2 separate regions of the Homo sapiens genome follow, and region 1 is linked to region 2. Evidence: fine-mapped expression QTL. A gene starts in region 2. The other region holds a variant in brackets. All regions are shown on one strand. Distances are between the middles of the regions.

Evidence for each region. PIP is the estimated chance that this variant, and not a neighbour inherited with it, causes the effect.
Region 1: its variant is fine-mapped to the expression of THBS1 in whole blood (INTERVAL, PIP 0.99).

Annotation. Positions count from the first base shown.
Region 1 is chr15:39,348,321-39,353,690 of GRCh38, reverse strand. All of the region lies in intron 1 of LOC105370777 (a long non-coding RNA gene), which reads left to right. Among named protein-coding and RNA genes, the nearest start is that of LINC02915, 100 kb to the right of the region's middle. The variant C/T (reference allele first, on the strand shown) is at 2,800.
Region 2 is chr15:39,578,970-39,584,339 of GRCh38, reverse strand. It overlaps THBS1 (thrombospondin 1), which reads right to left and starts at 3,261. Exons shown (of 22, transcript NM_003246.4): 1 at 3,112-3,261; 2 at 2,416-2,511; 3 at 1,588-2,147; 4 at 648-723; 5 at 153-352; 6 at 1-40. The coding sequence starts at 2,482. LOC124903470 reads right to left here and starts at 4,533. Exons shown (of 1, transcript XM_047433405.1): 1 at 3,346-4,533. The coding sequence starts at 4,022. The coding sequence ends at 3,588. RefSeq lists silencers at 3,721-3,770, 3,781-4,010 and an enhancer at 3,433-4,170.

The DNA of each region.
Region 1 (5,370 bases), 230 kb after region 2:
TTTGAACTCTTTGGCTAATTTTGTTACTGCTTTCAAACTGTTTAACCCGAGGAGAGGGCTCCCTCTGGCGCTGTCTCCTGAGGCCTTGGAGAGCTGTGTCCCTCTCAGTTGTGGTGTTGATTTTCTACAAGTGATTGAGAGCTGGTGTTTTGGTTTGCAGGGTCATCCCTCAGCGGTAGGAGAAGACAGGTGAGAGCCGGGGAGGCCACTCCTACCTGCGGTTCTAGAACCAACCATCCTGACGAAGGACTCTATTTAACTTGCTTCTTATCTTTCACATCCACCATTTTCCTCTCCTTATCCTTCCCGTGCGAACTTCATTAAAACAGGACGACTTCCTGTCCCCAAATGCCCTCAGCATTTCCCACGTTAGAACCTTTGCTCAGGTAGCCTCTGTGCCTGGAATGCCTGGAATTTCGTCCTCTGATTTCAAAGTCTCTGATTCCCTCCAAATTTTAACTCTTTTTTTGTTTTGTTTTGAGACAGAGTCTTGCTCTGTCACCCAGGCTGGAGTGCAGTGGCGCGATCTTGGTTCAGTGCAACCTCTGCCTCCTGGGTTCAAGCGATTCTCCTGATTCAGTCTCCCAAGTAGCTCCAAATTACAGGCATGTGCCACCATGCCCAGCTAATTTTTGTATTTTTATTAGAGAGGGGTTTCACCATGCTGGCTAGGCTGGTCTCGAACTCCTTACCTCAGGTGATCTGCCCACCTTGGCCTCCCAAAGTGCTGGGATTACAGATGTGAGCCATTAACTCTTCATGGAGGTTTAGTGCTTCAGGCTATTGGAGCTTGTGTCAGGCAGCTGGCCTGATGTCTTGTGCCTCTCTGCTTGGGCCCTATGTTGGCTTCTAGCAGTCCCTCAAAAGAACCACATTAATTCCTACCTTTTGTGACAGGTCCTTTATTTTATACATGCCATTCTCCCTGCCTGAATGCCCTACCCTCACCATCCCCACCACACCCCTTTTGCCTGGGAAATGATGGCTTGTCCTTCACTTCTTAGTGTCAAGGTCACTTTCTCAGGGAAGTCTCCTCTGAAGCCCCATCCTCCAGCTCTGTGCTTTCATAGGACCCTGTACTTCCCTTCATTGCATTTATTAGTATTTTAATGAATTACTTAATTTTGTGCCTGTCTGCTTGATGACTATGTCCCAGACTAGATTAAGCTTCATAAAGACAGTAGTATATTTTTCATGGTCTTCCCTGAATTCTCAGTTCCCAGTGTTTAACGTGTAGTAGATGGTCAGTAATTTCTCCCTCAATTAATGGATGTTAAATTGTGTATCTCCTATTTGAGTCTGAGTTCCTTCACAGCAGGTGATGGCTTCTGCTGCCGGGGCCAGGTCTAGGGGCTCCGGCTGGGCTTGGGATATATATATGTATATGTTGTATTGTGATAATAAACATAACATAACATTTACCACTTAACCATTTTTTAAGTGTACAACTTAGTGGCATTAAGTCCAACCATGTTGTGCAGTCATCATCAGACCTGGATTCTGATAGCCAGACCTGTAAGAATCTGTATGGGAGAATAAGACCTATAAGACTCTGTATGGGAGAAGCTGGAGGCAAAGGGGAATCAGAGTGCAAAGTCAAAAGAGAGCTTTCGGAATTAAGGAAGAAGTGAACAATGCAAAACATTAAGTCGGCAAGATGGGCAGTGCATAAGAAAATCTAGATCTTGGGGCAGGCACCATGGTTCACGCCTATAATCCTAGGACCTTGGGAGGCCAAGGCTAGTGGATCATTTGAGGTCAGGAGTTCGAGACCAGCCTGGGCAGCATGGCGAAAATCCTGTCTCTACTAAAAATATAAAAATTGGCTGGGTGTGGTCATGCATGCCTGTAATCCCAGCTGCTCAGGAGGCTGGGGTGGGAGGAGGATCACCTGAGCCTGGGAGGCAAAGGTTGCAATGAGCCAAGATCACACCACTGAGCTCCAGCCTGGGTGACAGAACCACTGTCTTTAAAAAAAAAAAAAAGCTCTAGAACTCTACAGAAGTGGCTTGAAGTAAGGTCAGAGAGGCAAAGAAAGTGGGTTCTAGAGGGAGTTTATCCCCAGAGGGACAAACGTGGTGATGGGAAACCTTCTGTGGGCTTGTAACTGAGTTCGTGGGTGGATGTGCTGGGATGCCAGGGCTGCTGCGACACCAGAGGCCACTTCTTCTTCACCTCTCTATACTTAGAATCTCTTGCAGAGTTTGGTGCTTGAGACGGCATGTAACAAAATGTTTTAATTAAACTTATGCTTTATGGCAATTGCAAAGGATGTTTGGGATGTGGCTCCGGCCTCCTTAACCCACAGGTGAAGGGTATCTGAAATGATCAGTTGCCTCTAGCCTGTTGCATCCCTGAAAAGCTGTTCCAGCTTCTTAGCTTTCAGATGGTAATAATGCTGAGGGGATTGAAGAACCGTTGTTGACAAAATACAGGTTTGCCAAGTTCACAATTTTTACCCAAGAAGCAGGTTGGCTGGGGAATTAGGAAGCAAATGAATGCTAACCTCTGGTGTAGCAGAGTCTGTGAGCCTCCTTGCCCTTTTCCCCTCCTGCCCTGCTGAACTTGGGGGTTGTGGGGTGGTGCTGGACGAAGGACCTCTTTGTAGCCTCTGACAGGTTTTATTTTCTGCCCTTTGGCTCCCTTTGCATCGTTGACAGACTTGCATTCAGTTGCCAAAACCTTAGGAGGGAGAGAGCACGTCCTTGCTCTGACACTGTGGAAAGGGAGGGGGCAATGAACGCTTCTCTGAGAAGGCAGGAAGAGGGATGGCTGTCATTCTGCAACTGCCCTCTTTAG[C/T]TGGAAAACCTGCTGCAGCTGAGTGCAGAGTCAAGGCCCTCTGGAAGGGAGGGAAAAGGCAGGCATTTCAGGCAATAGGACAGTGGGGATAAGTTAGTGAAGATGGGAATTAGCATAGAGTGAATAAATAAGCCTGAGGAATACAGAGGGAGCAGGTGGTGAAGAAATGGGCAGTATGGGTAAATAGACAATCTGTGGCCACACGAGAACTAAGCAGAGATGTAGAGGTTTGATGCAACAAGTTACAGGGAGATATTGAACATTTTCAAGCATTAAATAAATTTTCTTGGAAGCTATTGTATTTCATATCCTGATATAGGCTCTGGGATATGATGGTAGGAGAGATTAATGTGGGCCTTCCCTTAAAGAGCATAGAGTTTAGAGACGGGGGCAGGTAAGCACCAGGGAATTACAATGCAGTGCCTACATGAAAATGTACCTTAAAATTAATGTAAAGAAATGAATGAATTAGAAGGTGTAGAAATCAGAATCATGGAGGCCTGATATGAAGCTTTTGCAATAATTGGATACATGTTATGAAGACCTTGAGTGTATAGTGGTGGGAATAAGCAGAAATGAACAGAAAGAAGGTACATTTCTAAGAGGGGACAGTATCTGAAATGAAGTTTTGTCTAACTTTGCATTCAGTGTAATATTTGAATGAATGAATGCTGAACTTTCTGACTCTGGGTTATTTTAAGAAGGTGGCAAAAGTATAGCTACATGATTTTGAAGTTGGGTGACAGAATGGAGATACCGGTAACAGAACAAAGAAGCTGGGGAGAGAGGAAGAGGGGTAGGAAAAAAGGAATATGCTGTGGTCTGAATGTGTCTGCCAAAATTCATATGCTGACACTTAACTGTCCACGTGATAATATTGAGGTAGAGCCTTTAGGAGGTGATTAACTTATGGGGGCAGAATCCTCACAGATGGGAATAGGACCTTATAAAAGAGGTCGAAGGGAGCACTCTTCTGCCCTTCCACCTCTTCTGCCATATGAGGACACCTAGATTGTACGATCTATGAGGGATGGGCCTTCGCTGGACACTGAATCTGCTGGACCTTGATCTTGGAATTCCCAGCCTCCAAAACTATGAGAAATTTCTGTTGTTTATAAATTACCAAGTTTAAGGCAGTTTGTTATAGCAGCAGACATAGACTAAGACAGAAGGGAAAGGAAGGTGTTGCATTTGGCTTAAGAAGACATGTTGAGTTTAAAATGATGGTGGAACATCCCAGAGGAAGTGTCTAGTTTGTAGTTAGAGAATAAAGCAAGCAAGCAAAGAAATAAACAAGTCTTGGAAAGGAGTGTAGGACATTGCTTGTTAGAACAGGCTGTGAGATATTCATTTGGAGTAATTAGTCGGGTAATAATAATGGAATACATCAGACTGAGTTCCATGAGAAAGAAAAATAAAACTATAAAAAAGAGCACAGAATTAAGGATCATGACTTAGAAATTACTCACACTTTTCTCCCAATGATTGGGTTCTGGATTTGGCCTTGCTGCTGGACTTCTTGGTCCCATATGTCTAGGGTGAGGTCTTCTCCTGGCTGCTCACCAAGTTCATCCTCACCTCCTACATCTTTCAATGTTGCTTACTCTATGCTGGGGATTCAGCCTCTACCCAGGTTAACACCCAAGTAGCTGAACCTCAGCTAGTGTTTTCTAGGCTTTTCTTCCCAACAGCTAGACCCTAGCCCAGGGTCACTTAGCTATAACTAGGATCCTAATTTAAATTAGATTAAAATCGTCTCCCCACAAATTCTCAGACTGTGCCAATTCCAGACACCTGTATTTCACCACGGCCTAGATATTTCTTCTGTCGTTCTTTTCACATCAGACCATATGGACTGGACACAAATGCTGGGACCCTGATCTGCCTGCCTAGTTGCACCCTGTCCCTTGCCCCATTGATGTTCATGTCCACATTTCAGACCTGCCCTGGTTTTTTCTCACCTCTTTTCCCACTGGCCCCAGTTAAACTGCTGTCTTACCTCCAAGGTAGAGGGCAAAATAGAGAATACGCGATCCTTGGCATGACCTTCCTCTGGTCCTAGAGAAATGAGTCCCCACTAGGATTCTGTGAATCTGTCTGGATTATTTTATTGTCTTCTTTTTTTTAAATTTGGTAGTCATCTCAGTAGCTTTGAGAAGAACCATCTTTTTATGATGTTCCCACACAGCCTGGAAACCTTTGCAAAATGTTGTGGCCTTTTTGACTCTCAATTATCATCTGAAAATTCCTCAGTGCTTGTCACAAATGAGATGACAATCTAATTAGGAAGCTTGATTCTTCCAAAGACGTCAGCTTTCCAGAAGAGAAACAACTGAAATCATCATGGAAACTAAAAACCATTATGTTTTAGATTTTCTGAAAAATAAGGTGTAATGTAATTTTTTAAATTAGTTGTGAATTTTTCTGAATGTTGCAGCCATTATCCATCAGGGAAGTAACCTAAAATTGTGATAGGAAATCTCATTTGTCAATTTTGCTTATAGAAAATAGTTTTTGAATTACGTGTTTATGAATCAAAATTCAAAATGAATAAAAGGGTATAAAATAAAA
Region 2 (5,370 bases):
GCCGCCTCAGCTCATTGGCCAACTCTTTGTTCTCTTCAGTCTAAATGGGAGAGAATATCATTAGTGTCCCCCCGCATTTTCAGTCATTTGGGACCATCTGCGATAAACCTTCCAGGGTTCATGCTAACGGGCTGGGTGCAGAGGCCACTGACCACTTTGCGGATGCTGTCCTGCAGCGTGGTCACAATGGTGCGCAGGCCCCTGAGTTCCAGGACCATGCTGGACAGCTCATCACAGGAGATGCCGCAGATGGCTTGCAAGTCCTTTGTCTTGTGGCCAATGTAGTTAGTGCGGATGGCAGGGCTGGAACCATTCACCACGTTGTTGTCAAGGGTGAGGAGGACACTGGTAGCTGGCAAGAAACAAAATGAAAACTTCAAATAGATACTCTTACCAACCAGCCTCTTGAGTTCTTAGTGGTAGAAGACGTTTCATTTGGTGTGAAGGATGCAGGTAGAGGGGTTGCGTGTATGCGCACGTGTGTATACGTGTGTGTGTATAATACCCCTTGGAGTCACTTCTGTATGCCTCTTGATGATCTCACTGGGGGTAATTTATGTATAACCACTATTGCTAAATTCCTCAGTTTGTTTTTGGTGGAATTCCCCCTGATTCCCTATGTGCCCTAAAAATAGAGGGGTACTCACAGCTGGAGCAGCCTTTGTTCCTGAGGATGTCTTCTGGTGTGGTTCCAAAGACAAACCTCACATTCTGCAGCACCCCCTGTGGGCAGAGGACACACATTACTTGTAGAATGCAGAGCGGGGTGGGGATGGGGTTGGGGGAGACTGTCTGTATGCTAGGAAAAGCATACAATAGATGTTCTAAAAGCTTCAAAGAGCTGTCTTAAGATCACTATGTCAAAATAACACAGCAACATTAATCGCCAAACAACTTCAAAATCTTAATTGTGACTTCTGCCAAGTCTTGAGTATTTTACAAAGAATTCAGTTATCAGCCTACTTGGGTACACAGGAAATGGAATCTGATCCTAAGCCTAGAGGATATAATGACACTTTCCAGTGTCAAAGAGTTAAATGTGGGAGTTCAAAGCCACCGTTGCAAAGATCTAGAAGTTAAGGCACAGATGAAGCTGTAACAGCAACAACTAACTGCTATTTTAACCTTTTATGTGAGACCAGCTGCATCCCCATGAGGAATCCAATAGCAAAGTGGTACTGATTCTGCCCATAGAAAGTATCCATTTCAAACAAGATTAAAATTGGGGGAATGCATTTGAAATAAGCTCTTTTCTTAAGAGCCTAAGGAGTATCTAAGGCTTGAACAGGCTGACTGCTAAAGGAAAACCATTTCTTGTTTCCTTGAGTAGTTTTCAAAGTGTGCTTCCCAGACCACCGGCATCAGCATCACCTGGTACTTGTTAGAGTTGCAGTTTTACAGAATCCCAGACTCTGGGGCTGGGGTGCAGCAGGGTGAGCTTTCACAAGCCCTCCAGGTGATGCTCATGCTGCCTAAAATCTGAGAACTGCTGCGTTAGTTTACAGACAGGATTTCCTGTAGCCCTCCTGGCAGGTCACCTGTCTAGCAGATGATCCCACGGAGCAGGGCTCAGAGAAGAAGCCTCACCTGGAAATTGTCATTGACGCCCCCCTTTGCGATGCGGAGTCTGGCGATGCTGGCCAGGTCTCTGGTGAAGACGCTTTGGATGGGGACGTCCAACTCAGCATTCTCCATCTTTTCACAGTCGATGTACAGCTGGGCCCTGTCTTCCTGCACAAACAGGGTGATGCTCTTCCACTGGCCGGTTGCCAGGAGAGCTTCTTCCACAGACACCACGTGCTGCTTTCCTTGGACGGTCAGGCTGAGGTCCAGGGTGCCCGCCTTGCCATTGGACACCACGCTGAAGACCTGGCCAGAGTGGTCTTTCCGCTCCAGGGCCAGCAGCGTGCCCCGGGTCTTCTTCATCTGCCTCAGGGATGCCAGAAGGAGGAAACCCTTTTCTGCCCGCACAGCATCCACCAGGTCTTGGAACTTGTCATCAGGCACAGGGGGGATCAGGTTGGCATCCTCGATGCGGAAAGCTGGGCTGGAAGGGTCGGGGCCCTTCACCAGTCGGCGCCCAGACCCCTTGCGGGCGGCCCCGGTGAGTTCAAAGATGTCAAACACGCTGTTGTCTCCGCCAGACTCTGTTAGACAGGAGAGAACACAAAGTGAGCTTTCTAGGCTGGGACCAGCAGTAGGGGGCTGAGTCCTTAGGGGTGGAGACAAAGGGTTGGGGTGAAAACTCCTGGCAACCACTGAAAGAGGTGAATAAATACCAGGATCAGAGTGAAGCTGCGTCCTGATGTCCAGTCAGGCTCAAGAGGGAGAGGACAGCACGTGAGGGGGCACACCTGGGATAGCCAGCACCTCTTCCTTGTCCCTCCTTCCCCTAAAGGTGCCACACAAACTCACCTGGAATGCGGTTGGTGCCACACACATGCATCAGGAACAGGACGCCTAGTCCCCAGGCCAGCCCCATGGTGGAGCTGTTGGTGCCCAGCAGGGATCCTGTAGCAGGAAGCACAAGAGCCGAGGGTCAGAGATCAGCTAGGCAGGGAGGGACGGTGCGCAGAAACGGGGCTGGGCATGGGGACAGGGCCGGGACCATCCCTCTTTGACCCCGCGTTTGCTGAAATGAAGGACAACAGGATTACTTTCCAGAGAGCATGAGAGAGAGAGAGAGAGAGAGAGAGAGAGGTGGAGGAAAGAGATGCTGGTTTTAAAGTGTGGGGGGCGCAAGACCAACAATTTGGGGGCTTTTGGGAAGTCGAAGGTGAGCAAGATCAGGAACTGTAGTTTGGGGTTGCAGGGAGGGCAGGGGAAGTACAGACTCTTCCCTGGAGTGCTGATACAAAGGCTTAAGGAGGACTTCAGAGAGTAAGGAAATCTTGGGGTGTCCTGATGAGTTGGTTTGTGAACCTCAAGGCTGGAGAGGATGGCTCTGGAGCCTTGCCCTGAAGAGTCCTCCAGCGGCTGAGAGGAGCGGGCTGGGGTAGGCGAGCGGGGAGAGTGTAGGTTCCGGGGTCCACCAGAGGGACTGAAGCCTCAGCGCTCCAGGTGGATGTCCCGGGCAGCTTTGGTCCTCGGCGGCCGCCGGGGGCGACTTACCTGTGTGTACCGGAGCGCGGCGGCCGGGAGCGGTGGCGAGGGCGGCGAGGGCTGGAGGGGCGCGGGGAATGCCTGTGCGTCCGGAGTAGAGGTTGCTCCTGGAGAGCGACAGGAGCCCTGAACTCGCAGGCCAGCTCGGGCGCAGCGGCTGGCAAGGCGGAGGAGCCGCGCGCTTTTAAAGGGGCGCTCGCATTCCTGGGGATTCCTCCGGCCAATGGGCGGCGGCCGGGCAGGAAGCGGGAGGTGGGGGCCAGTCTGGGCTCCTCTCTCCGCCCCCCGCTGCCTGGCGCGCAACTTTCCAGCTAGAAAGTGAAGGGGGCGGGGGTCGGGGCTTGGGAGCACTAGAACTTCTCAGAAAAGTCGGTGCCCGCCCACGCAGCCTTGGCGCGCACGGGCTCGGCGCTCGTACTCTTGCGCCACGCGGGCTCGGGGTGATCAGCAAGCATCCCGAAAAGGGACGGGGCTGGGGAGACCACCTAGGAGGGCCCGCGGGGTGGCGCAGGGGCTTTCGGGCGAGCTGATCTCCCGGAATGCCTGGTTGATGGCGAGAGGTGGATACTAGAGACTGGGCCCGTTTTGTAAAAAGAAAAATGGGCCGACGGGGCGCAGGGGACACCAAGAGAGCCATTCGTTAAAGTACCTGCCCCTCGGGCCCTCGCTGACTCTCCTCCACCGTCCCCGTGGGGTGAGGACACGCGTCCCCCGAGCGCCTGTCCTGAGCTGGCCCCACGCCCGCCCCGGAGGGAGGTGAGCGCGGCGTCGGCGGGGCCGGCAGGTTGGTGCGCCGCGTTCGCCTTCGCTGCCTTCGGGCCCTTTCCTGCCGCGGCTGCCAGGGGGCCCACAGAGACGCCTCTCCCGCTGCCGCGGCGCTCCCTCGGCCGGCCGCTTGGGGGCGGTGTGCGTATTCTCATCAAGGGGCCCGGGGAGGACAGCTGCTTTCTACTCGAATTTTAAGGAAACTTACTCGTATCCAGTTTCCACAAGCCAAATTGAAATTGTGTCTTGAAAAACAGTTTTTGTGCCCACTCGTGCTTCTTAACGTGACTCCTGTTTGGAGAATTTGCAGAACCATCTGGCTCCAGAGTCTTCAGCTATTTACAGAGCAGACCCATAGAGTAATAAATTACTCTCTGCCTATTATTGTATTTCCCTTTTTCCTCCCTAAACGTTCTTTTCATTTTTCGGCTCCTGAACCCGAGGTGTGGGTTACATTTCTGTGGGTGCACACATTGCCATGAGTGCCGCTGCCTAGTGCTTCTGTCATTGAAGTCTGGTCTCCAAGCCACTGTCCCAAGCCAGCATGACTCTAGCTTCCTGGAATTCCATTCATCTCTTCGGGATGGGACGTCAGCCGCCTCGCTCCCTCTGCTGTGATCCAGCGCTATCGGGCTCGCTCCGAGGCCAGGGCATAGGTAGAAGCTTGACCAAATAAGGATCTCAGCACGGGCAGGGGGAAACCCCTGGGGTTCACCTCCCATCTTAGCACTTAAACCTGGCAGGACTCCCGACTGCTGCAAACAGCCAAGTGTTTACATTCATCAAACAGCAGTTTCGCTTTTCTTGCGTGGGAGTGTTGTATGACAAGATGGTGTGTGTGTGTGTGTGTGTGTGTGTGTATTACGGAAAGAGTGTTTTCTAGTTACTCAATATGTATATAAAATGCCTCTAAAAGATGACCGGTATGTTCCTAAGGCACATGTTTGTTGGATTTCAGATGTTGGGAGGCAGAAAGAAAAGTTTCTACTGGTTGATGAATAAAATCAGATTCTTGTCCCGCAAATCATAGGTAATGATTCATCCAAGCAGATCTGAAGATTCTGGAATCGGCACCCATCCATCTCCCTCCCCTTCCTTCTCCTTCTACAGCATTCATCTTGCTCTTCGAAAAGTAATTGGGTTTTTTTTTTCTTCTTTCCACTTGCTCCATGATACTGGACAGTCAGAAATAGTTCTTGGAGGGATGGGCCGCTCATGGCTCTGGGCTCCTCTGGCCCACTGGATCATTGTGTACAAATCAGATGGGGGCTTGAGGGCTGCAAGAGGCCCACAAAAGCAGAATGCATCTTGTATGAAAAGATTATCTCCCCTAGGCTTAGCTGTGCAGACAGAGTAGAAACCAGCACTCACTGCCCCTTCAGGATTCATGCTGCCATGGCTGAGGGATTGTAGGAATGCCTCTGCAGATTTCTTGGAACTTGGCTTCTTTCAACAAAACAAGGACAACAGTTTCCAAACTTCATCATGCTTTACCAATAAGAA